4 linked regions of the Homo sapiens genome follow. The protein of the gene in region 4 interacts with the protein of the main gene of each other region in a pairwise test. Each region holds a gene or a part of one and is shown on either strand. Other genes may lie near its edges. The genes, in order: BNIP2, RNF20, POLDIP3 and NCBP1.

The links.
Region 1: the proteins of NCBP1 (region 4) and BNIP2 interact in a two-hybrid assay, tested with the Homo sapiens proteins (one study listed by BioGRID).
Region 2: the proteins of NCBP1 (region 4) and RNF20 interact in binary tests that used the Homo sapiens proteins (3 or more experiments, as listed by UniProt).
Region 3: the proteins of NCBP1 (region 4) and POLDIP3 interact in binary tests that used the Homo sapiens proteins (3 or more experiments, as listed by UniProt).

Annotation. Positions count from the first base shown.
Region 1 is NC_000015.10:59,660,162-59,666,208, reverse strand, and holds part of BNIP2 (BCL2/adenovirus E1B 19 kDa protein-interacting protein 2), read left to right. Parts: intron 1-2,088; coding exon 2,089-2,140; 3' UTR 2,141-6,047.
Region 2 is NC_000009.12:101,542,468-101,548,677, reverse strand, and holds part of RNF20 (E3 ubiquitin-protein ligase BRE1A), read right to left. Parts: intron 3,912-6,210; coding exon 3,793-3,911; intron 1,859-3,792; coding exon 1,712-1,858; intron 1,542-1,711; coding exon 1,464-1,541; intron 1,280-1,463; coding exon 1,160-1,279; intron 1-1,159. UniProt on the Homo sapiens protein: Component of the RNF20/40 E3 ubiquitin-protein ligase complex that mediates monoubiquitination of 'Lys-120' of histone H2B (H2BK120ub1).
Region 3 is NC_000022.11:42,589,301-42,595,510, forward strand, and holds part of POLDIP3 (polymerase delta-interacting protein 3), read right to left. Parts: intron 2,785-6,210; coding exon 2,655-2,784; intron 1-2,654. UniProt on the Homo sapiens protein: Is involved in regulation of translation. Is preferentially associated with CBC-bound spliced mRNA-protein complexes during the pioneer round of mRNA translation. Contributes to enhanced translational efficiency of spliced over nonspliced mRNAs.
Region 4 is NC_000009.12:97,643,817-97,650,026, reverse strand, and holds part of NCBP1 (nuclear cap-binding protein subunit 1), read right to left. Parts: intron 4,911-6,210; coding exon 4,803-4,910; intron 4,417-4,802; coding exon 4,295-4,416; intron 2,536-4,294; coding exon 2,466-2,535; intron 2,020-2,465; coding exon 1,804-2,019; intron 1-1,803. UniProt on the Homo sapiens protein: Component of the cap-binding complex (CBC), which binds cotranscriptionally to the 5'-cap of pre-mRNAs and is involved in various processes such as pre-mRNA splicing, translation regulation, nonsense-mediated mRNA decay, RNA-mediated gene silencing (RNAi) by microRNAs (miRNAs) and mRNA export.

The sequences.
Region 1 (6,047 bases), on a different chromosome or scaffold from region 4:
GTTGAAGAAATGTTGACAACAGGGAGATCCAGTGTCCCCAGTGACAGAAAAAGGATAGCAGTTTAAATGTTTAAAATGTTTCTTTCAAACAACTGGATGCAAGTGTGGCCATGCAGATACAGATTGTTAAAATGTTTCAGGGGAGTTTAAAAATAATTATGAAATTAGTTGGTAAGGATATTTCAGATGTTAAGAGGATTTGATATATTTTGCATGCCTTATCAGAAATACATTCCAAATTTTTTATAACAATATTTTAAATATTTTAAAATGTTACTTTGGCTTTACCACAGACCAGGGCTTTTAGGTCTGTTTCACTAATATTCAGGTGGGCATAGTAATGGGTGATGAGAATAAAAACATATGAAAAATATTTTTCTTTATCTAATACCGGATTGTTTTAAAGGTCCCTTCATCAGTTATTCAGACCACTACAAATGTAATAGTAATAGACTGTTAGCTTTGAAGGGTTGTCTGTAATTATTATGTGGTAATTATGTAATCCTTCTAATGCCCACATGCGTAAATTTTGATATGACTGATGTCCAACCCACCACTAAATAAATAAGCTTTTTGATGGGTTTTTGTTTTGTTTTTTTGAGACAGGGTCTTGCTCTGTCACCCAGGCTGGAGTGCAGTGGTGCAGTCTCGGTTCACTGTCGCCTCCGTCTCCAGGGCTCAAGCAATCCTTCCACCTCAGCCTTCTGAGTAGCTGGGACTACAAGTGCACACTACCACACCTGGCTAATTTTTGTATTTTTTGTAGAGACGGAGTTTTGCCATGTTGCCCAGGCTGGTCTCAAACTCCTGGTCAAGCAGTCCGCCCGCCTCGGCCTTCCAAAGTGCTGGGATCATAGGTGTAAGCCACTGTGTCTAGCCAATAATTAATTTATATTAGATATTTTTGAATGTTAAATTCTTTTTTTTTATTTTATTTATTTTTTTAAGACGGAGTCTCACTCTGTCACCCAGTCTGGAGTGCAATGGCATGGTCTCAGCTCACTGCAAGCTCTGCCTCCTGGGTTCAAGCGGTTCTCCTACCTCAGCCTCCCAAGTAGCTGGGACTACAGACGCGTACCACCACACCTGGCTAATTTTTGTATTTTTAGTAGAGATGGGGTTTCACTGTGTTGGCCAGGCTGGTCTCGAACTCCTGACCTCGTGATCCACCCGCCTAGGCCTCCCAAAGTGCTGGGATTACAGGCGTGAGCCACGGCATCCGGCCTTGAATGTTAAATTCTTAAGGCTTCTTACTGTCAAAACAAATTTAAGGCATTCACAAACTGTGTACCAATAAGTTTTGGAGAATAATTATGGGTTCTATAAGGATGCATTTTTTATCACTGAATTTTAAAATATTGATTGATAATTGGTGGCCTTCATGGCATTTTCATATTTTAGTTAACAGAATCATTTTTGAGGGAGTTGTTTTTCCTGCCATTTTCGTACCACCTGGATCCCTACCACAGCCAAGTTACAGGTCAAGATTTTAATATGCCATGTAATTTGAACTTTTAAGAAAGTTTATGGCTGGGCACGGTGGCTCACGCCTGTAATCCCAGCACTTTGGGAGGCTGAGGCAGGCAGATCACGAGGTCAGGAGATCGAGACCATCCTGGCTAACATGGTGAAACCCCACCTCTACTAAAAATACGAAAAATTAGCCGGGCATGGTGGCGGGCGCCTGTAGTCCCAGCAACTCGGGAGGCTGAGGCAGGACAATGGTGTGAACCCAGGAGGCGGAGATTGCAGCGAGCTGAGATTGTGCCACTGCACTCCAGCCTGGGTGACAGAGCAAGACTCCGTCTCAAAAATAAGAAAAAAAAAAAGTTTATATGCATTTGTATGTAAAGTATTTTATAATCTTTAAAGAAACAACGGTCACATTTCTTGCCAGTGTCCTCCTGCCTTTAAAAATTCTCTTTTCTGGTTGGGGAAATGATGTTTGGTAACTGTTTTTACTATGTCTGCTTCTTTGCAAAGCTTTGTCTTTAACAGAGTAATATTCTATGCTAAAATAGTCATTATTTTTAGAAAGAAAATTGTTCAGTTGCTGGTTTCTTATTTTATATATTCTTCATTAAACAGAGTTGATCAAGAACTTAATGGAAAACAAGATGAACCGAAAAATGAACAGTAAGTTTGGCATCTAGTCCAAACAAGACTGAAGAATGTGCTGATGGAGCAGTGCTGTTTCTGCATTCATAATGCATTTATTGGCCCATATTTTTATGTAACCTGTTACAAAATAGACTTGACTTTTTCATAATGGACTTTTGTATTATACAAGGGACTGTTCACTGCTGTACTGGTTTGCAAATTTCTTGAATTTAGCTCTTTAATAGCTAACTGTATTATTATCGTTTTATATTTTATATTGCTAAATAGAGAACCACACTTTATATAAAGTAGTTTTTGCATTTGTTTATTGAATGATGCATCTTCTTCGGTGAAATATTTATATGCATAAATGGCAAAGGAAAGAAATAATATATATTTTTATGTCATTGAGCAATATTTTTTAATGTGTACCTGTCTTATGGAAGAAATATGCAGGTATATAAGACCACGATTTTCTAAAGTGCATATTAGAATTTTTGTTTTTGTAAATGGTTAAATACATTTCCTGGGTAACTTAGGAAATTAAGTTTTTCATAAGGCAACAGATGGTTAAACTGATTGTCATGAATACCCAAAGATCATGTATATAATCGAAGTGTATTAGTACCATCCCAAGGTTTTTTTCTCATTTAACATATTTGTTTCATAATTCAGCAAGTACAGATGCAAGCGCATTGCACACTTTTTCCTTTCTAAACTTAAAGACAAGTCAAAAAGCCATTCTTAGAACTAGAGGATTTAAGAGGGTAGGAATTAGGGTTTGTATATATGTATATATGGGACATTTTATCTTCTGGCCCAAAGTCAGAACTTTATAAAAATCTTGAGTTTGTTCACTAATGTGAAATAAGCTATGTGTCCAGGGTATTGCTCCCCTGAGTGTATATGAGTGCTGAGTAGTATTGCAGAGAATGTGATGAGTTATTCACTGTCACAACTTTTTCTATAGAAAACAGGGGCTGCTTTTTAAACTCTCACTATGGGCACTTTACCAAAATACTTCCATATCAATTATTTGAACTCGGTAGTTGTTTGACCTAGTTAGATGTGGTGTTTATTCAAGTTTGTATGAAATCATGTTTGACAATACTGTAAATTAGGTTAATTTTGTAAGTCTTAGCATCATCATATTGTGCTGTTTTGGATAACACGTTTGTTACAAGCATTTAAACTGTTTCATTTGGTAGTACCTTTACATTGAAATAAATTGTGTTTGTGCCTCCAAACAAAAAGTTTAATTACCGACAAAATTATTTCTAAAACAACAGATTGATCTGATATTGTGTCATATACTTGAAAGGCTCATACACAGCTGGTAAGCATAATACCTTCCAAATTTGAAGGTCATGGCTACTCTTCAACCCTTCCTGTAAGGTATTTTACAAAACAGTGGCCTAGAGTAGCAAAATTGAAGTGGATGTGAGCTAACCTTTCAAGATTTAGTCTATCCTAGATTGAACACACATGTGGCTGTGACCATTCTCATGTACTTACAAACCTTCTGTTACAAAAGGGAACTTTCCTATATTTTTTGTCCTCCTCAGTCCTAAACTTGGCATGCTAACTTAAAACCAGTTATAGGAGAGAGATGCTGGAGGATTCCCAGGATGAAACATTCCTCAGCAGCCTCCTGACTTAACTCAGATCCAGCAGCTCTTGGCAGATCCTGAACTAATGTCATTACAGTGAATTGAGCCAAAACGATTATTGCTTGCTCACATTTTAGGAACACTTGTTGTTGAAGAAGCAAACTAACAATAACAAGTTAGGCATTCCTTCTGAATTTACCATATAAGGATTATGTATAAACAATTATATTGAATTTGTCATTAGATTCTATATTTGTAGACGATTTAACGTAGTCTTTCATCTGTACATCTTTATCTTGCTCAAAATGGGCTGAGGTTTTTAATAGGTGGTTTTCTACCACATTAAGTACTTGGTTCTTCAGTTTAAAAAATATGAAGAATAACTTCAACTCTTTTTTGCATTATTTTGATTTTTGATTTTGCAGTCATTGCTCCTAACTGTAGATACATGTTGCAAAAGTGATGTTTTTCTGAATTTTTTTTAAAAGTAGAAGACTATTCTGTTAAACATTAAAATTCAGAGACAACAGTGATAACACCTGGGATATAATGAAAATGAGGTGCTGTGAATCAGTAAACTAAAGGGATACCTGCTTTAACCTGCACCTTAATGGAATCTGGTATAGAGATGTACCCACAATAAATGTTTTATAAGATTTAAGATCATAATAGTAGGTTAGAGGAAGAGCATTTATTAAGTCTGTTGTTTCTAATCTATAGCTAAGTTAACATTTCCCATATTATTCCATTTTAATTTCCCATTACTGACCAAGGTGAAAGTATATGTGATTGTACTTTTATCTTTCTGTTGGGATCATGGATCTAATTTAACTGGCTTAATTTGATGCTTCTGTCACTAGGCTCTAAGTGCCCCTTTTTTAGTCAGAAGTTTTTCATGTGAAATAATTTGATTCTGTGTTCTGCTTGATCATACTCCTAAGCAAGCACCAAGGGAAGACGTTCTATTCACCCCACAATTTAAGCTTAACAATCTTTAACTCAGAGGGAGATATGAAGAAATATGATTCTAAGTAGGGTCTAGCAGAGGCATTGGAAAGTGATAAAAGTAGGAAGTAAGAGAAAGCAAACCTTTATAAAGAGATAAAGACATAGTTGTTACCTAAGATGCCACTGTATGTGTGCCCTCTCTTTTTTTTTTTTTTTTTTTGGAGACAGAGACTCACTCTGTCACCCATTCTGGAGTGCAGTGGCGCAATCCTGGCTCACTGCAACCTCTGCCTCCCGGGTTCAAGCATTTCTCCTGCCTCAGCCTCCTGAGTAGCTGGGATTACAGGCACACGCCACAATGCCCGGCTAATTTTTGTATTTTTAGTAGAGACGGGGTTTCGCCATGCTAGGCTGGTCTCGAACTCCTGACCTCATGATCTGCCTGTCTCAGCCTCCCAAATGCTTGGATTACAGGCTTGAGCCACCACGCCCGGCCATGTGTGTCCTTTTAAGGGAAGTACCATATGTGACTGCTGATGGTAACATTTCTTGTATGCAGCAGGAAAACCTGCAGGCTATACGCAAGGTATGTGAATAAAGACTGTGGATTGAAGGGGGAAAAGTTGATAATACATACCCATGATAAGAATTCATATTTTCTCTTTCTTTGTCTCTTCATACAGAAGCAAGTTCGAGCAGAGAAGGTTAGCAGTTACAGCACTTAAAAGTTTAGGATTGAGGGTTTTTGGTTGGTTTTTTTGTTTTTTCATATTTCACTGTTGCTGAACATTGATTTAGTCTTCCAAAATGGACATCACTAGTAAGTGCACTGAATACTGAAATATGCTGATTGGCAAGCATATATCTGTAGCTAGAATTTTTTTAACCGTAATTCCAGAATTTAAAAAGGTAAGAGATCTGCTTTTTGATAGAGGCCTTTTAAAAAGACTATATAACATTTCTATTTGGCTGTTTATGTGAATGCTCAGGGAATTTGGACATGTGTTTTATACAGAAGTGGCTTTTTATATTTCTTCAAGTGATAAATTAGCATTAGGACATATCAGATAGAACAGGCCAGTTTCCTGATGAGATTGGTAGAGATGTTACGGTAGGTTCATCCTTCCTTTTTCCATGTTATATGTGGAGAAGTGTTAAACTTGCTCAAGCAAATGGGAGTAGGAGATAGGCTGAAAATAGAGATTGCTACACCATTCTATTTTGTTTTCATGCCTGTTTTTTCTCCAATCCTATATGGACATTTGAGAAATGGACCACAAATCTGAGAGGGATAGAGTAAAAAGAGGCATTAATGTATGTACTCACAAGTTAGACCTATTTTGCTGTTAAAATAGGTCTGGTCTTGTTATAGGTCATAGGAATTGTGTA
Region 2 (6,210 bases), 3.9 Mb from region 4:
GTAAGTAAAGAAGTAGATATATCAACAAAACTTAACATTTTTTCTTTGTTCCCCCCAGCTTTATTAAGGTATAATCAACAAATAAAAATTATACATATTTAAGGTATACAATGTGGCATTTTGCTATACATATACACTGTGAAATCATTACCACAATCCACCTAATTAACAAATCCTTCACCTCACAGTTATCTTTTCGTGTGTGGCAAGAACATTTAAGATCTACTCTTAGCATATTTCAAGTACACAATACAGCATTAATTATAGTCACCATGCTACACATCACCAGAACTTATTCATCCTGCATAACTAAAACTTTGTACCTTTTCCCCAACATCTTCCGATTTCCCCAACCCTGGTAACCACCATTCTACACTCTGCTTCCAAGATTTTGACTTTTTTAGATCCCACATACAAGTGAGATCATGCAGTATTTGCCTTTCCGTGCTTGGTTTATTTCAGTTAGCATAATGTCCTCTAAATATATCCATGCTGTTGCACATATACACACACACACTCACATACAAACACACACCACATTTCTTTATCCATTCAGTGTACAGTTCTTTCATCTCCCTGGTTAAGGTTATTCACAATTTTTTTTAATGGTATTGTAAATGGGATTGTTTTCTTAATTTCTTTTTTATAGAGTTTGTTGTTGGTATATAGACACACAATTGTTTTTGTATGTTGATTCTGTAGCCTGCAACTTTACTGAATTCATTTATAGTTCTAACAGTTTTTTCGTGGAGCCTGTAAGGTTTTCTATATATAAAGTCATGTCATCTATAAACAGAAACAACTTTACCTCTTCCTTTCTGATTAAGAGGCCTTTATTTCTTATCCTTGCCTAATTACTCTGGCTAGGACAAAAGTAATGACAGCGAGCATCTTTATCCTGTTCCTGATCTTAAAGGAAAAGCTTTCAACTTTTCGCCATTGGGTATAATGTTGGCTGTGGGCTTGTTTTATATGGCCTTTATTATGTTGAGGTACACTTCTTTACACCTAATTTGTTAAGAGTTTTATCATAAAAGGATGTTGGATTTTGTCTACATTTTTCTTATCCCTCATGAATACGCAGATTCACAACTATGTATATACGTGAGTTGATCAGCAGAACGTCTGATTTTACTGCCCTTCAGGGATGCGTTCCTACCTTCAGCTTTTCATTTTGTGTAGTGACCTCCTCAAAGTCTTGCCGAAGTTTCTCCAGCTCACAGAGACGGTTCTGAGCCAACTCTTTGTTCTCCTCAAGCTCTGCATTCATTTCCTCAAACTGCAGAGAAGCAGAAAAATAGAGAATAAATAAGTATTCTTCTTAAATCATTTCTAAGCTTCCTTTCTTCACTGATTCGCTATTCCAGCAAAACCCCATGATGTCACTTGTGAACACAGTCCTAAGTACCTAAGCATGAAAGCTGACATACAGTCCAAAACATGTCCTGAGTCACTGATTTTACCTTCCGAGCATTGATAGTGATTGTGCCGCCATACAGACTGCTCCCCGCTCCATACACCTTATAACCTTTGGAATTCACCTACAGAGAACACAAAGATTCTTTAGTGAGAGACTCTTAAGATTTCAGTCTATAACCAATGTACCTTCAAAGGATGAGATTTTTTCCTCAAATACCATGCCCCAAGGTGAGTCTTCCTGAGAACACTCCTTAAAATGATTCTAGTCTCCAAGCCATAAAACAGCACTGACCCGTTCTAGGACTTCTGCTAAGTGTCGGTTGAGTCGCTGTTCCCTCTTTCGAATTTTGTCAATATCCCACTGCAGGTCATCAATCATGGACTCCAGGACAGACACTCGTGATTCGGCTGTCTCCACTTTACTCTGCAACTTGGAGAACTACATCCCAAAGACAAACATTCAGAAACATATAGCAAAAAAAGACCAAATTCCATAATATTAACCCTTGCTTATGAGTAATTATAGAAAAGAGGCAAATAGAAGATGCTTCACCCTCTTCCCAATGCATGATTACAAAAATGAAATCACGGATTCCTCCAACAATTCTGTGTCAGTTATAATCATGCAAACTTTAAGTCTAAAGTCTATAAGAACTCTCACACAAAGAAAAGACCACCTAAGATTCAACAATTTTTCTACCTCTGAAAAGCACCATTTCTCTGGACAGACCACAAACTCATAAAAATTTTGTAATTTTTTAAGAGATAATAAATAGTATCTTTTGTTTTGTAAGATAAATATTTTTTCAAAAAAACCATTTTTACCCCCAAATTTCTCTCCACAGTCCCACAAAAGGTAATCCATTCATTCACAACAAAAGAAAACTTCCATACTCTTTTTTAAGCTCACCCCAGAGCAATCTAGAGTCAGATACAATACAGTATAGATTATACTATAATCTAAAGTCAGATACTCTATTTAGGAGCTATACACCAGCTAACACTATTTAGTATTTTAACTACTAAACTATTACAAGTTCACATTAATCTATATATACCCTTTGTGCTAGGTTTTAAAACATGACACAAAAATCCTTTGAAAGTCCTCTGAACAAGAGGTGGGATCTTTGTTCCCTCCTCTTGAATCTGGGTCAACTTTAGAGACCCAATGGAAATGTCACTACACAATTTTGAGGCTATATCAGAAAGGCCATGAAGGTTCTACCTGGTGATCTTGGGATGCTCACTGGAAGAAGTCAGCCAACATGTAAAAATTCCAACCATCCTGAGACTACCATGATGGAGAGGCAAACTGCAGGTATCCCAGTAGACAATTAACCCAGCTGACAGGCAGCATCAACAGCCAGCCATGAGAGCCAACAAGGACATCACAGTTTAGCAAACAACTGCCCTCCAGGTTAGTAATACTATCTGAGATTTGTCAAAGGGCTAGAAAAGGAAGACCTCTCCATCTTGGTAGCACCTAGTCAATGTCTTAAAACATGATAAAAATATTCTATTTTCTTACTAGACTCCAGTTTATTTATAAGGGCTACTACATTCTAACCCCTTTGAAGGTCCAGGATAATCCATATGAATTAATAAATTCCCCAGATGATATTCATGCAACCAGGCCAGCATGGACCTTAACACTGGGGTTTAGTAAACAAAGGCATATGAAGAACAAGAGCTTTGAAGTCAAACAGACCTACAGTCACAACACAGCTCAATCACTTTCTAGCTATGTGCCCTCAGAATAATCACTAACCTCTTTGAATTTGTTTCTTTGGCAATAAAATGGGAGTTGTTTTGCCATTAGAGATAACATTCATAAAGTGCTTAAATTCTAGGCACTAAGTAAATGGCAACTACTAAATTACTAATTAGCATAAGAATTCAGTGGCCAAACTAAGGTGGGGCAAATTCCAGTAGAATATATTTTGAACTAAATCAAAATGATCATCAGAAGTATCAGAAAAGTCATTTAAGGCCTATCATCACTTTATCTTGATCATTTTGTGTAAATAAATAAATGTCCAAATCTTGGCATGGTTTAATCATGGCATTATTTGCACCCAAGTTTAGACTGAAAATTGACATTCCTCAAATTCCTAGGACATCATCAATACAGTAGTTTCTACTTCCCCATTCCCTGTGGAATTTCTACCACGCCATTCCTCAATAACACTATACAGTCTTTTATATTTAGGGTAATTCATTATTTGGAGGTTTGGAGTTGTGTTGTGTTTTACAAAATCCCCTATGATATGATAGGCCTTCTAGAGTAAGGTAATCTTTGAGGTGCTCAGAATTGTAAGTCAACATCTGCCACAGCCCACTAGACACAGCCATCTCTCCTTTTTGGTTAAGTACCTCCTGAGACATGGTGCGATGCTTTTCCTGAAGAAGATCTGTCAATTCCTGTAGCCTCATATTCTCCTGTGCGAGGAAAGAGTTCAGCTCCTGCACTGCTTCCTCCACTATCAGATTATCTGGGGAAGAAGAACTATACTTTAATTTAGCATCTAGAGTGTCATTTTTTTTTTTTTTTTAAGACGGAGTCTTGCTCTATCGCCCAGGCTGGAGTACAGTGGCGCGATCTCGGCTCACTGCAACCTCTGCCTCCAGGGTTCGAGCCGATTCTCCTGCCTCAGCCTCCAGAGTAGCTGGGATTACAGGCACATGCCACCACACCCGGATGATTTTTGTATTTTTAGTAGAGATGGGGTTTCACCATGTCGGACAGGCTGGTCTCAAACTCCTGACCTCAGGTGATCCACCCACCTCAGCCTCCCAAAGTGCTGGGATTACAGGTGTGAGCCACCGTGCCTGGCCTATAGTGTCAAATTTTAAAACTGTGTATCCTTGGCCAGGTATAGCAGCTCACGCTGTAATCCTAGCACCTTGGGAAGCCAAGGCAGGCCGATCACTTGAGGCCAGGAGTTCAAGACCAGCCTGAATAACAAAGCAAGAATCATATGCTCTTATCACATATTCTCATATCATATATTCTGAAATACTATGTTAGGGGCACTTCTGAAGCTTAAAAACCAAAATGTACACTACTATTTACAAAGCAGGTAGGTAAATCCATAGAACTTATTACACCAAGTTCGTATGTTTAAAATTAGAGTTGCAAATACTATAGCTGAAATCCAAATGTAATTAAATGAAACCAGATACTCTCAGGATATATACCACCCATCAAAGAGAGTTATCAGGAAGAAAAATATGCTTTCTCATATCACCTCTTGGCATTACTCTTAGTATCAATACAGAACAGGTTGGTCATATGGTGGTTTTCATGGTTTTCAAGCTAGGCTTGCCCATCAGAATCACTTGTGGAACTTTTAAAATAGACATTTCCCTAGGACCTATCTCATACCTACTTAATAAGAACCTCCATGGGCAAAGCCAAAAATAAGAATATGCTCAGAAAACTCCCAAGGTTATTCTGATTCATAACCTGAGTTAAGAAGTAGAGACTGAATTTTAGTCCTCTCAATATCCTAAGCACTGAGGACAGGGCTAGAATACAATAAAATTCAATAAATGTTTAGTGAATTTATAAACAAGCCCATAAATGCAATTCTTTTGAATCAAAGACCAAACAAACAGACAGTACTGCCCTGGCAGGTTAGACAGTGCCGCCCTGGCAGGGTTAGACAGTGCCGCTCTGGCAGGTTAGACAGTGCCGCCCTGGCAGGTTAGACAGTTCCGCTCTGGCAGGGTTGGACAGTACTGCAGTGGCAGGGTTAGACAGTGCCACCCTGGCAGGGTTAGACAGTGCTGCCTTGGCAGGTTAGACAGTGCCGCCCTGGCAGAGTTAGACAGTGCCGCTCTGGCAGGTTAGACAGTGCCGCTCTGGCAGGTTAGACAGTGCCGCCCTGGCAGGGTTAGACAGTGCCGCCCTGGAAGGGTTAGACAGTGCCGCCCTGGAAGGGTTAGACAGTGCCGCCCTGGCACGGTTAGACAGTACTGCCGTGGCAGGTTAGACAGTGCCGCTCTGGCAGGGTTAGATGAATTTATAGACCTTACTCTATAAGGCCTATACTTGCTCTAGAAGGCCTTACCTTACTCTAGAAGGCCTATCATATCATAGGGGATTTTGTAAAACACAACACAACTCCAAACCTCCAAATAATGAATTACCCTAAATATAAAAGACTGTATAGTGTTATTGAGGAATGGCGTGGTAGAAATTCCACAGGGAATGGGGAAGTAGAAACTACTGTATTGATGATGTCCTAGGAATTTGAGGAATGTCAATTTTCAGTCTAAGTCAGGGGGATGAACTTTCAAACAAGTTACAACTGATGCTATAATTCATACTTTATACATCTTTATCTCTTAGAAAGTTCAGCTTACCAATGGCAATTGCCTTTTGTGTTACAAATAATGGCATGGCTATTTGTAATGTTTCTACTTTTTAACTTAAACCCGACCTTAAAATGCATGCCATTAAATAGTAATTTTAAAGTCGTTTGATATACTACTCATTTTATTCCCTTTTTAAATAAAACAATTGTTTCACTTGATATTCATTTATGAAATCAAGTTTAACATAGTCTATGCACATGGCATATTAATTACCATATTACTAAAATTTAACAATACCTTCTAACTATTCAATTAGAGCCCAAGGAGAAAGAAGCATATGTGCACACACAAAGCACCATTATTTTATATTAGGTGACAGGGAGGTTCACATCCATTCATTCCCCATTGACTAAACATCTGCTAGATGCCAGATGCAGTGCTAGAAACTAGAGAAACAAAGAAGAGTGAGCC
Region 3 (6,210 bases), on a different chromosome or scaffold from region 4:
CTGGTCTTTTACTTATTAGCTTATTAGCTATTAGTAATATAAAATGAAATATACTTTAAAACAACAAAAAAAGTGACTAGAGGTAAAGAGAGATTTAAATTTGACTGAAGGGTCAATTCATCAGGAAGAAAACAATCAAACATATATGCAAGTAACAACAGAACCTCAAATATATAAAATAAAAATACACAGAAGTGAAAGGAACAGACCAACAGTAATAAAGATCTCGCCGGGTGCAGTGGCTCACACCTCTAATCCCAGCACTTTGGGAAGCCCAGGTGGACGGATCACTTGAGGTCAGGACTTCAAAACCAGCCTGGCCAACATGAGGTCAGGAAATCAAGACCATCCTGGCTGACACAGTGAAACCCCATCTCTACGAAAAATACAAATATTAGCTGGGCGTGACAGTGGGCACCTGTAATCCCAGCTACTTGGGAGGCTGAGGCAGGAGAATTGCTTGAACCCGGGAGGCAGAGGTTGCAGTGAGCTGAGATCATGCCACTGCACTCCAGCCTGGGTGACAGAGGGAGACTCCGTATCAAAAAAAAAAAACAGAACCTCAGTATTTCACTTTCAATACTAGATAGAACCAAGCAGATCAACAATGAAACGCACTTAAACATTACAAAGCAACAAGACATAATAGACATGTACAGAACATTCCACCTAACAACAAGAAAATACATATTTTCCTTAAACACTCATAGAAGAAAAGAAAATCTGGAAAATTCATGAATATATGGAAATTGAAACAATCCTAAATAACCAATGGGTCAAAGGAGAAATCACAAGGGAGATTAGAAAATAATTCAAGATGAATGAAAATGAAGGCATGATATACCAAAACACGGAATGCAGTTACAGCCATGCTTAGAATATATAGCTGTAAATGCACATACAGTCATGTATCATTTAACCATGGGAATACATTCCAGAGTGCAGTGGCACGATCACAGCTCACTACAGCCTCAACTTCCCAGGCTCAAGTGATCCTCCCACCTCAGCCTCCCCAGCATCTGGGACTACAGGCACACGCCACCACGCGCCCAGCTAATTTATTTTTTGAGACAGGGTCTTGCCACGTTGCACAGGTTGGTCTCAAGTTTCTAGGCTCAAGCGATCCTCCTGCCTCAGCCTCCCAAAGTGCTGGAATTACAGGCTTCAGCCACCACACCCGGCTGTACAGCATGTTACTCTACTGAGTAGAGTAGGCAACTGTATTTGTACATCTAAACGTAGAAAAAATACAGTAAAAATATGGTATTATAATGTTATGGGCCCACTGTCATATATGTGGTCTGCTGTTAACCAAAAAGTCCTTATACTGCATATGAATACATTAAAAAGCAGAAATAAACCTACAGAATGGGAGAAAATATTGGTAAATCACTTATCTGATAAGGGACTTAAGAATATGTAAAGTACTTCTACAACTCAGTATTTAAAAAGCAGACAAAGATTCTGTACAGGCATTTCTCCAAAGATAGCTGGGCACAGTGGCTCATGCCTATAATCCTAGCACTTTTGAGAGGCCGAGGTGGGCAGATCACCTGAGGTCAGGAGTTTGAGACCAGCCCGGCCAACATGGTGAAACCCTATCTCTACTAAAAATACAAAAAAATTAGCTGGGCTTGGTGGCGTGCACCTGTAGTCCCAGCTACTTGGGAGGCTGAGGCAGGAAAGCCGCTTGAACCGGGGAGGCGGAGGTTGCAGTGAGCTGAGATCACGCCACTGCACCCCAGCCTGGGCAACAGAGAGAAACTCAAAAAAAATAAAAAAATAAAAAAATAATAAAAAATAAAAATAAAAAAAAGAAAGAAAAAGGAAAATAAGTATCTTTCCACATCCAAACATATGACAAAAAATAAGAAAAAACAAAAAAAGAACAGAAATTCAAAACAAAATTAATTTCTTTAATGACATACAAATGGCCAATAAGCACATGAAAAGGTGCTCAACATCATTAGCCATGGGGAAATGCAAATCAGAACTCCACTGACTCACCCAGGGGAGTTCACCCAGGTGCCAAGATTTAGCCAAGGCTCCAGGTCTTTTATTTGTAATTTTTTTTATTGTTGTATTGTTTTATTAGTCTCTGCTTCTCCACTTCTAGCACAGGGCCTTGGTCCACAGTAGGCACTCAATACATACTGAAAGAACAAATGAGTGGAAAAGGAGCATGGCAGACAGAATTCTTCTCTACAGGCTGTCTGGAGATGAAAAATATGAACCTCAAGTCAATAAAGTCTGTTGTTTACCCACCAGGAGCAGCTCTCACCCAGGTGTCAACATTCAGACAAAACTCCAGGGCTGGGAGGAACTTCTGCCCTAGCACTAAACAGATCAACATCTGGGAGGCAACAGCTGTGCCTCTTGGCTCCCCTGGCAAGACCCCTTAAGAGAACCATCCATGGAGAAATGCTGTTTTCCTTTTTGCTGGGCTCAAAAGCTTAAGGGCTGGGTGAAAATCCAGGGCCCTGTGTAACCCACAGCTCAGGACTACTCAGAGACTGCACGGCAGTTCCTGGTGCAGACGAGGCCCCAGAGATGGGTTCCACCCATCTCACAGAGACTTCCCCTGGAAGGCCTGCTACCTGACAGCAAGTAGAGATGAGTGGGAGGGTCAGGGGACTGCTTTCTCCCTAACTTACCGTCCAGACACCGGTTGTTGTACTTCTTATATGCGGTGATGGCATCGTCCTTTTTCACAAACACCACCTCCGCTACCCCAGGATGGACCAGTCGAGCTCGCTTGAGGGCCCCACACACACAGAAAAGCTCCTGCACACAACAAGAGGGGTTGGGATTGGGGAAGGATTTCTCAGCACCTGCCGCTCACACACTCTGAAGGCCCTGGGGTGTGGTGGTTCCGCTGCAGCTAAATGCGCCCTGCGCCTGAGACTGCGGGGAGGCTCCACGCGAGGTGGTGCTCTGGAGACATCCACAGGCTTCAACACAGCACCAGATGAGGTCAGCAGTGGGAAAGGGGCTGGGTTTACAAGCCTTGGATCACCTGGGATCTCCCAGCAAGCCACCACCAAAGTCTTCAGTGCCCACCTCAACAGGGATAAAACAGTTATGAAAATTTTCGCAAAGAGCCCTGTCATTAGAATACATGTATACAAAGAAAGACAGCTGCTAATATGTCACCTGAGAATCTGTTACAAATACAAATTCTGGAGTTCTACCCAGAGTCCTGGTTTGGCTGGACTGAAGGGTTTCCCTGGACATGAGACTTTGAGTGATGAAACCAGGAGAGTCCCCAGCAAAACAGGGACAGTTGGTCACTCTAAGTCAGACCTGAGTTTGATCCCCCAGGCTCTGCTTTCTATCTGCTATGAGACGTCTAGCAAATTACTTAACTTCTCTGAGCCTGTTTCCTCCTCTGAAAATAAAAAGGACTAGCTTACTTCCCAGCTTTACTGGAAAGCTCAACTGAGATAATTTTTAAGGCAGTGCTTTGCACACATCATTGAGTCCGATCTCCACCTCATTTTACAGACAAGACGACTAAGGCCAGAGAGGGAGCAAAATGTGAAGATGGACAGAGGCTGACTAGCACTCACGCCATTTCTTCACCTGCAACTGCCTTCACAAGGTTGCTGTGAGGGCCAAAAGAAGGTTTATGAAAAGGTCCTTGACATGGTTTGTTTTTAATGGTAAATATCAAAACAAGATGCCCCTCTGCACCTGCAGGAGACTGGTTCCAGAACCGCTCGCAGATACTAAAATCTGTAGATGCTCAAGTCCCTGCTATAAAATGCTGTAGTATTTACACATAACCTATGCACATCATCCACTATACTTTAAATCATCTCTAGATTACTTATAATACCAAATACAATGTAAATGCTATATAAATAGTTATACTGTATTTCTAAAATTTGTATTATTTCTCATCATACTGTTATTTTTAAAAATTTGAGTATTTTCATTCAGTGGTTGGCTAAATCCACAGATGCAGAACCGACAGATATGGAGGGCCAACTATAAATAGTAGGTGTAATTCCAATTTTATTACCATTGTCCTTTTAACATTGCCTATTTGGGTAGAAGAGAAGCGAGGGTGATTATTACTAGCAATTTCCCCTGAGCACTGATCATGACTGGTGTTTAGTTTTCCACCATTATGTATCTTCCAAGAGTCTGCCTAAAGTGACTGGCACATAGCAAGTACTCAGTAAATGGCAGTTGTTATTACGCTCCTTAACAGCTTTAATTCTTTTCTTTTTTTGAGAGAGTCTCACTCTGTCACCCAGGCTGGAGTGCAATGGCGTGACCTCGGCTCACTGCAACTTTCACCTCCCAGGTTCTAAGTGATTCTCCTGCCTTAGCCTCCTGAGTAGCTGGGACTACAGGCACGTGCCACCACGCCTGGCGAATTTTTCTGTTTTTAGTAGAGACAGGGTTTTGCCATGTTGGCCAGGCTGGTCTCGAACTCCTGACCTCAGGTGATCCACCAACCTTGGCCTCCCAAAGTGCTGGGATTACAGGCGTGAGCCACTGCACCCGGCAATCAGCTTTAATTCTTAATGACTTGTCAAGTATTACACAAAATAGGCTACAATTTCCATCCTCACGTGCACCATTCACAGTACTGTCCCTGCTAAAGGAGAAGGAGATACGAGTGACCCATCTCACGGCATGCGTGTGTTTCACAATTAAGATTTAACCTCAGCTGGGCACAGTGGCTCACACCTGTAATACCAGCACTTTGGGAGGCCAAGACAGGCAGATCATGAGGTCAGGAGTTCAAGACCAACACGGCCAACATGGTGAAACCTCGTCTCTACTGAAAAATACAAAAATTAGCCGGGTGTGGTGGCACACGCCTATAATCCCAGCTACCAGGGAGGCTGAGGCATAAGAATCACTTGAACCCAGGAGGCGGAAGTTGCAGTGAGCCAAGATCGCACTACTGGCACTCCAGCCTGGGCGACAGAGCAAGACTCCATCTTTAAAAAAAACAAATCGAGGTGGGTGGATCATTTGAGGTCACGAGTTCGAGACCAGCCTGGCCAACATGGTGAAACCCTGCCTCTACTGAAAATACAAAAATTAGCCAGGCGTAGTGGCAGGCGCCTCTAATCCCAGCTACTCGGGAGGCTGAGGCAGGAGAATTGCTAGAGCCTGGGAGGCAGAGGTTGCAGTGAACCGAGATCACACCATTACACTCTAGCTTGGGTGACAGAGTGAGACTCCATCTCAAAAACAAAACAAAACAAAACAAAAAGATTTAACAAATGTAGTGACCAGTGCAGTCTGTTAGTCTGGGACTTAACTGCAGGGAGAGGCTGGATTCTCCAAACGTATTCATTTTGTGATCTGACAGTTCAAAGGATGCCTGGATTTCTAAACTAATGGCTCTTTTGGGTGCCTGAATGAAAATGATGTTGAAAAGAAGTCCTAGCTGCATCCAGAACCCCGCTCACAGACATTTGACAGGTTTTGCCCATGACTGCCATGGGTGGGACGGGATGGACCAGGAAGGTGGATACCACCAATCCATCTCACTTCTTTCACTTTGGAATCATCTTGTAATACCTCCAAAGGACACAGGAAAACACAACTATTGGATACTGCCCAGTGGGACTAAAGGATCCCATTTAGGACCCATTATAGCATAGATATCCCCTGACTCTGAGATTCAGGCCAGGCACCTGGCCTTGGCTAGAAGCTGTGCAGAAGAGTGAAGCAGCTGGGCTGACTGCTATTGTTTGAAAGGTCCGATTCCAGGGGTGGCCCTTGGCTGGCATCTGAGAACTCGGATCTCAGGAGGGCTCCTGCCACCCCACAGTTCACTGTGCCTGGACTGTGCAAACAACATGGTTTCTGCTCAACAGCTGCTTTCCCTCTGGGAGTCTGGAATTTTAGTACATGCTACACAGAGAATGCCGAAGTGACCAGCCCCCAGTAAAACCTTTGGGTACTGAGTCTTTAATGAGCTTCCCTGGTGTCACATGTATTGTCACAACTTGCTGCGAGTTGCACCCAGCATCCTGTGCGACTCTGCTGGGAGGGGCCTCTGGAGGCTTGTGCCTCGTTTCCCCCCGACTTCACCCCATGAGCCATTTGCTCTGCATCCTTTTGCTGTCATTAGTCTCAGCCCTGAGCGTGACTATATGCTGAGTCTGGTGAGTCCTAGCAGTCATCAAACCTGAGGGTGGGTCTTAAGAGACCTTTGCCACAGAGGCAGTTTGAGATTTA
Region 4 (6,210 bases):
TCATAGCAAACAGGTTCAAAACACACAAAATAAACCTTTAATAATGACTTTTGGATGATTCTAATCTTTTTTTTACAATTTCTAATGTTTTTTAATAAACAACTTGTAAAAGGCCAGAACAGAAACAAAATCCTGTTCGTTTTGGGAGTAATATGTATTTTATATATTTATACTCTTCTAGCAAGGGATGGATATGCACCTTACAGAGGTGATACCAATTAAATACAAATTCAGGAGAAACAAATTTTGAGGTCCCATTCTAGTTTCCCCTGCACAAAAAAAAAAAAATACCCGACCACAAACATTAGCAGTCTTAAATGTAAACCAGATTTTCAGTTAGACATATCTAAGTAGATCATTACATAATTTTGACTAAAGTATTTGGTTACATATGGAATATAGCAAAGACGGCAGCAAGCTGATAATTTTGTATATGTAACTGATTATCTGAGAAATTTTTATTCCAAAATAGATTACATATATACTAAATTCCTACTGGTCATTAGCACTTTACCATAGAACAGAAAAGAGACAATAGAAGAAACTCAAATTTGACTTAGGTGGTAATATTAATTTTTATGGCAATAGTTTTCAACTGGGGGCAATTTTGCTCTTGAGGGGACATATTGCACTCTCTGGAGATATTTTTGGTTGTCAAAACTGAGGCAGGGAGAGTGCTATTGACATTTAGAGGGTAGAGATCAGGGACACCGCTGAGCATCTTACAATACACAGGATAGTACCCACAATGAAAATTATAAATTTTCTTAATTGTACAATATACAATTATAACAGTACAATGGCTGCCAGGAAACTTGACTTTGAAATAAAGAACATGTATATTAAAAATGATAAAGTCAGCTTAGACTAATCTTTGGAATTTTTTAATTAAAAATACTTCCAACATTTGTTTTCAAATAATCATACAATATGAATAATCACAAGACAGGCTGTGTTGCCTAGAGAGGGACCATACCTAAAACTAGGTACTTTTACTGAGAAATAACCTTATTAAGTATAATTATGGACAGGTGCAGTGGCTCATGCCTGTAAGCCCAACACTTTGGGAAAACGAAGCGGACGAATTGCTTGAGCCCAGGAGTTTGAGACCAACCAGGGCAACATGGCGAAATCTCAACTCTACAAAAAATTTGCCAGGCTAGGTGACACATGCCTGTGGTCCCAGCTACTCAGGAGGCTGAAGTGGAAGGATCGCTTGAGCACAGGAGGCAGAGGTTGCAGTGAGCTTAGATCTCACCTGCAGCCTGGGCAACAAAGTAAGACCCCATTTCGAAAAGAAAAAAATAAGAAAGAAAAATTGCCAGAATGACTGAGCATTCATCATGTGACAGACACTGTTCTTGTTCTATGCATTTTACATGTGAATAATTTAATCCTCATAACATGAGATATATACTACTATTATGAGATGTATACTATTATTATTACCTTCAGGAAATGAAAGCACAGGGAGGTAAATAACCTTCCCAAATTAACACAGCTAGTATTTGGCTAAACCAAGATTAAAACACAAACCAACGTAGCTCTAAAAACCCAAAACCCACACTCTTAGCCTGCAAACTGTGCACGTCTCTGTAATCTATTTACACATGCCAAATATAATTTCTTGCATAATGAGGTGATATCATTCACTGAATTAAAAAGTTAACTTCATTGCTACTGACCTTCTTAGATAAAAACAACTCAAAATTAAAACATACCACAGGCATAATTCAAGCGGGATTAACCCACAAGCACAATGCAACACAGGTCAATATCTAGGACTTTTAGTCGGTCACTTACCTCGGGATCATCTGTGTAATCAAACATTCTGAAGATGACCCTTGGCATTGGGTACACTGAATCTTCAGTGTGAGGAGGTGGTGTAAAAGGAGGCAGATTGTGCTGCAGTGCTTCACACAGGATGCTGTCAAAGGCAAGATAAGGTCTTAGGATGTGCCGTTCCTGCCAGCGATCCTTTTTCAATTTCTGAATCTGGGCCCACAGGCAATCTAAATACTAAAGACAGATTAATTTTTAATCATTAATATAATTAACATTTTGACTAGACAAAATGAAAAAATCACTACCCTTTAAAATACAGGATACAAAAGTAAGCTAACTTGTAAGATGGTACAAAAAAAGGTGCTAAGTTTTTGTTTTTATTTTACTTACAAAGTCTACCTGTTTGGAACTGTCTGTTTTGACATTTTTCAAATTAAGCATTTAAATAAATATATGTCAACTCTGTAATAGCTGGCATTCCAAAGAACAAGGGAATATTTCAATTACATTCTATCATCTATTAAAGACCTACCATACACCTTGAGCTATGAGAAGGAACTATCATGAAATGTAGAAACACAGTCAAAGGGTAAAATGGAATGGTCTGAGTATCTTACAGAGATAAGAATCTATTCAAGAGCTGACTGTGTTTGTATCACAAGGGACTGAAATCCATTTACCTCTTCTTGTGGATGTGGTTTATCAGCAGTCCATACCTGTAACATGGGTACATGAGTCTTTTGGCGTCTTCTAAAGATAAAAATGAAAATCTACATTTAGGCTTTTAAAAACAAGAGATGCTCAGTCACCCTCACAGTTATTAAAATGCAAATTAAAGCAATGAAATAACATTTTACCTACTGGAGTGGCAGATATCAACTGTTTTGATAATGTACTGTGTATCATCAAGATGCAGGTCAAGATTCAGTCTCAAACATTGTTGACAAAGAGGTTAACTGATATAATCTCTTTGGGAAAGTATAATCTCTTTGGAAGGTAATTTGACTAAATCTATCAAAATTGTTTAGAACCCTCAACTCGGCAATGCCATTTCTAAAAATTTATATCCCCCATAAATATATTTGCACATGTACATAAAAACATATACACAAAGATATTCACTGAAACATTGTTTATAAGAGCAAAAGATTGAAAATAACCTAAACGTCCACCAACAGGAGACTACGGAAATCATGGTACATTAAAAAGTGAAATACCCTACAACTGTTAAAAAGAATGAAGTAGAGTTAAGTATTTTTATGCAACAAATCCAAGTTATAGTAAGAAAAAAAAAAAAAGCCAAGTGAAGAACAGTGTGTATATTGGGCTATCATTTGAATAAAAAAGAGAAAGGATATGTATACACACACACACGATTCTTTTTTTTTTTTTTTTTTTTTTTGAGACGGAGTCTCACTCTGTTGCCCAGGCTGGAGTGCAGTGGCGGCACCATGTCGGCTCACTGCAACCTCCGTCTCCTGGGTTCAAGCAATTCTCCTGCCTCAGCCTCCCGAGTAGCTGGGATTACAGGCACCCACCACCACGCTCGGCTAATTTTTGTATTTTTTAGTAGAGATGGGTTTTCACCATGTTGGCCAGGCTGGTCTCAAACTCCTGACCTCGGGTGATCCACCTGCCTTGGCCTCCTAAAGTGCTGGGATTACAGGCGTGAGCCACTGCGCCCGGCCAAAAGATTCTTATTTTTTAAGCTTCTTTTAACTTTACTTAATAACCAACTAAGTAGCTATTAACAGTTATCCAAAAAAAGCACTTAAAAAAGAGAAAATGAAACTTAACAACAAAATCAATCTGTAAAAACCTAAGGGCCACATAACCATTACCATGTTGCTGGATAGTTAAGCATAAATTTACTAAAAAGACCTATTTATTATTATTGTATCTAACAATATAAACCAAGCTTTTACATTGGCTTAGGAGAGATGAGTAATGGGAAGACATGTGACTATTTTAATTGAAATGTGTCATATTACTTAAGAAGTACTGGCTGGATGGAGGGTTAAGGACCACTGTTTTAAGAGCTTGATTTAAGATTAATTTACATGAACTAAATATACTGTATGTGCTAGGACAGTGGTTCTCCACTTGTGAAATGTGTTAATAATACAGATGTCCAAACCTCTCTCTCAAATTGTATAATTTATCAGGTCTGGGGGTTGGGGTCTGAGTATTTTAAGTACCACAGGTAATTCTTATCCACACTAATATTTGAGGAACTATTGCACTAGGGTGTTTTATGTCTTTTATAAACAAACATATAAAAGCAGCTTAAAAGAAGCTATATTGCCAACTGTCCTTTGCACTGGCAAAAGTAAGCAAACCATATCTGACTACTTTGAGGTCTCAGTGAGTTAAAACAGCAGGAGAACAGGATTACCTAGAAAATACCTTCAGGAACTCTACAGCTTATTTTTGAGAAACTCAAATGGTATCACTGATATAAGATATCCTTTACCTAAGCAACAAAGAGTACTATGAGCTGTGCCCTTACTTAAGATAGCTTTCAGTGTTGGCAAAGATGCGGTCCATCTCTGCATCTTTCTTTTCGTACAACTCCTTTCCAACCCAGGGCAAAGATGACAGAAATGCATACACATACCAATCTCGTCGCACCTAAAGGATTTTTAAAAAGTTAAGTTTAAAATATGCTTTAATTATATTCATTCATATTTTATTTATTCTTGAATGAAATCCTATGGAAGCTATTTAATAGGACTTAAATAAGACATCTGGTTTATACAGAGCATTTCTAGATATATTAGTTCTAATCTTACTAGACAGCATCATTTAAATCAACATACAGATATTATGAGAACCCACCAGTGTGCCAGTCAGCTTAATTTTTAGATAGTAAGAACTTAAAGTGTGATAGTCTGCTGTTATTTTTTTCTTTATTGCTAATGGGTTATCAGCGAAAAATTCCTGGTACTATATGGAAGTACCAGGATTCAGTAACCCCTCAAGAACCCCTCAAGATTCAGCATGAGGGGTTCTCTTACCTGAGGTACATCTTCTTCCTGAGTTACGCTTACAAAATTTTCAAACATAGCAACCATTGATGGGGCGGCAATCACATGACAATTCACAAGATCAGATAAAAAACGGACCTGTTGGGGCAAACAATTTCTGCTATTAAACCTAAATGTTCTTTATAATAACTACAAAATAAGCAATCTTGTATAGGCTAAACTATTGGTCTAAAAAACTATAGCCTAAGGGCTGAATCTAGCCTACTACCTGTTTTTTGCATAGCTGGGAACTAAAAATGGTTTTTACATTTTTAAATGCGTGAAAAAAAAATCAAGAGTATTTTATGACATATACAAATTACATGAAATTCAAGTTTCAGTGCCCATAAGTAAACTTAGTGGAATAGCCACGCTCATTCAGTTACATATTGTCTATGGTTGCTTTTGTGCTACAATGGCAGAATTGAGAAGTTGTAACAAAGACTATATAAAGGACAGTAATCTGTGAGTTCATACGTTTCTATGCTATACTACATCAAGAATCCAGATTGTAAAATATTCTAGCTACTTCAACCTATAATCTCCTTTTCTGTTTGGCTGTAATTTTCACTGAATTACAGAAATGGAAATTACAGAACACATATTTATTGGGTGTGCTTAGTGTGCTATTGCTAAACACTACTAAAAGTCACTGTTAGGGGACCCATTCTAGTGGAACAAGCACAATCTCAATACAAAGGAATGACTCCCACACTAAAAGGCAAATTAAGCATTTTTTAGGAACAATGACAAAGGGAGTTGGGGAAAGCATCACAAAGGAGGTAACAATTAGGCTAGGTCATAAAGGATAGCAACAGCCTCAAGTAGTGAGCAAGGAGGGCAGTCTAGGCATAGAGGTTCAAAAACAAGGTGTGTTTAGGGATCTGCAAGTTATTTTGATATTGCTGGGGAGCATATGGGAGACAAGAATAGAGAAACAGACTGGGGAAACCATAAAGGGTCAGGCTAAAGAGTCTGGACTTTAATCCTATAGCCTGATGGGTGTCCAAACTTTTTTGATTGTGTACTCAGTAAAAAAGAATTTGATCACATATCTTCAACACATACATATGTATTTATGATATACACTGGATCACCATTAATCTATGTATTATTAGTAAGGTTTAATTTCATTTCCACTTAAGATAAATAAGAGTTCTTAATATTCACTTCCTGAAACCCAAGGAATCATCTTGTGCACCAGGCTTTTAAGACCACTCACTGTAGACAATGGGAAGGAACTAAGGTTTTTTTAACCAGTAACCAACATGTGCAGAGCCTAGTTATAGAAAGACCAGTCTGGTGCCACTGTAGAACACAAAGTGAAAAGCAGAGAATCTAGATGCAAAAAGATCAGTTAAGAGGCTATTAAGAACATCTGGAGGAAGGCATAAACTAT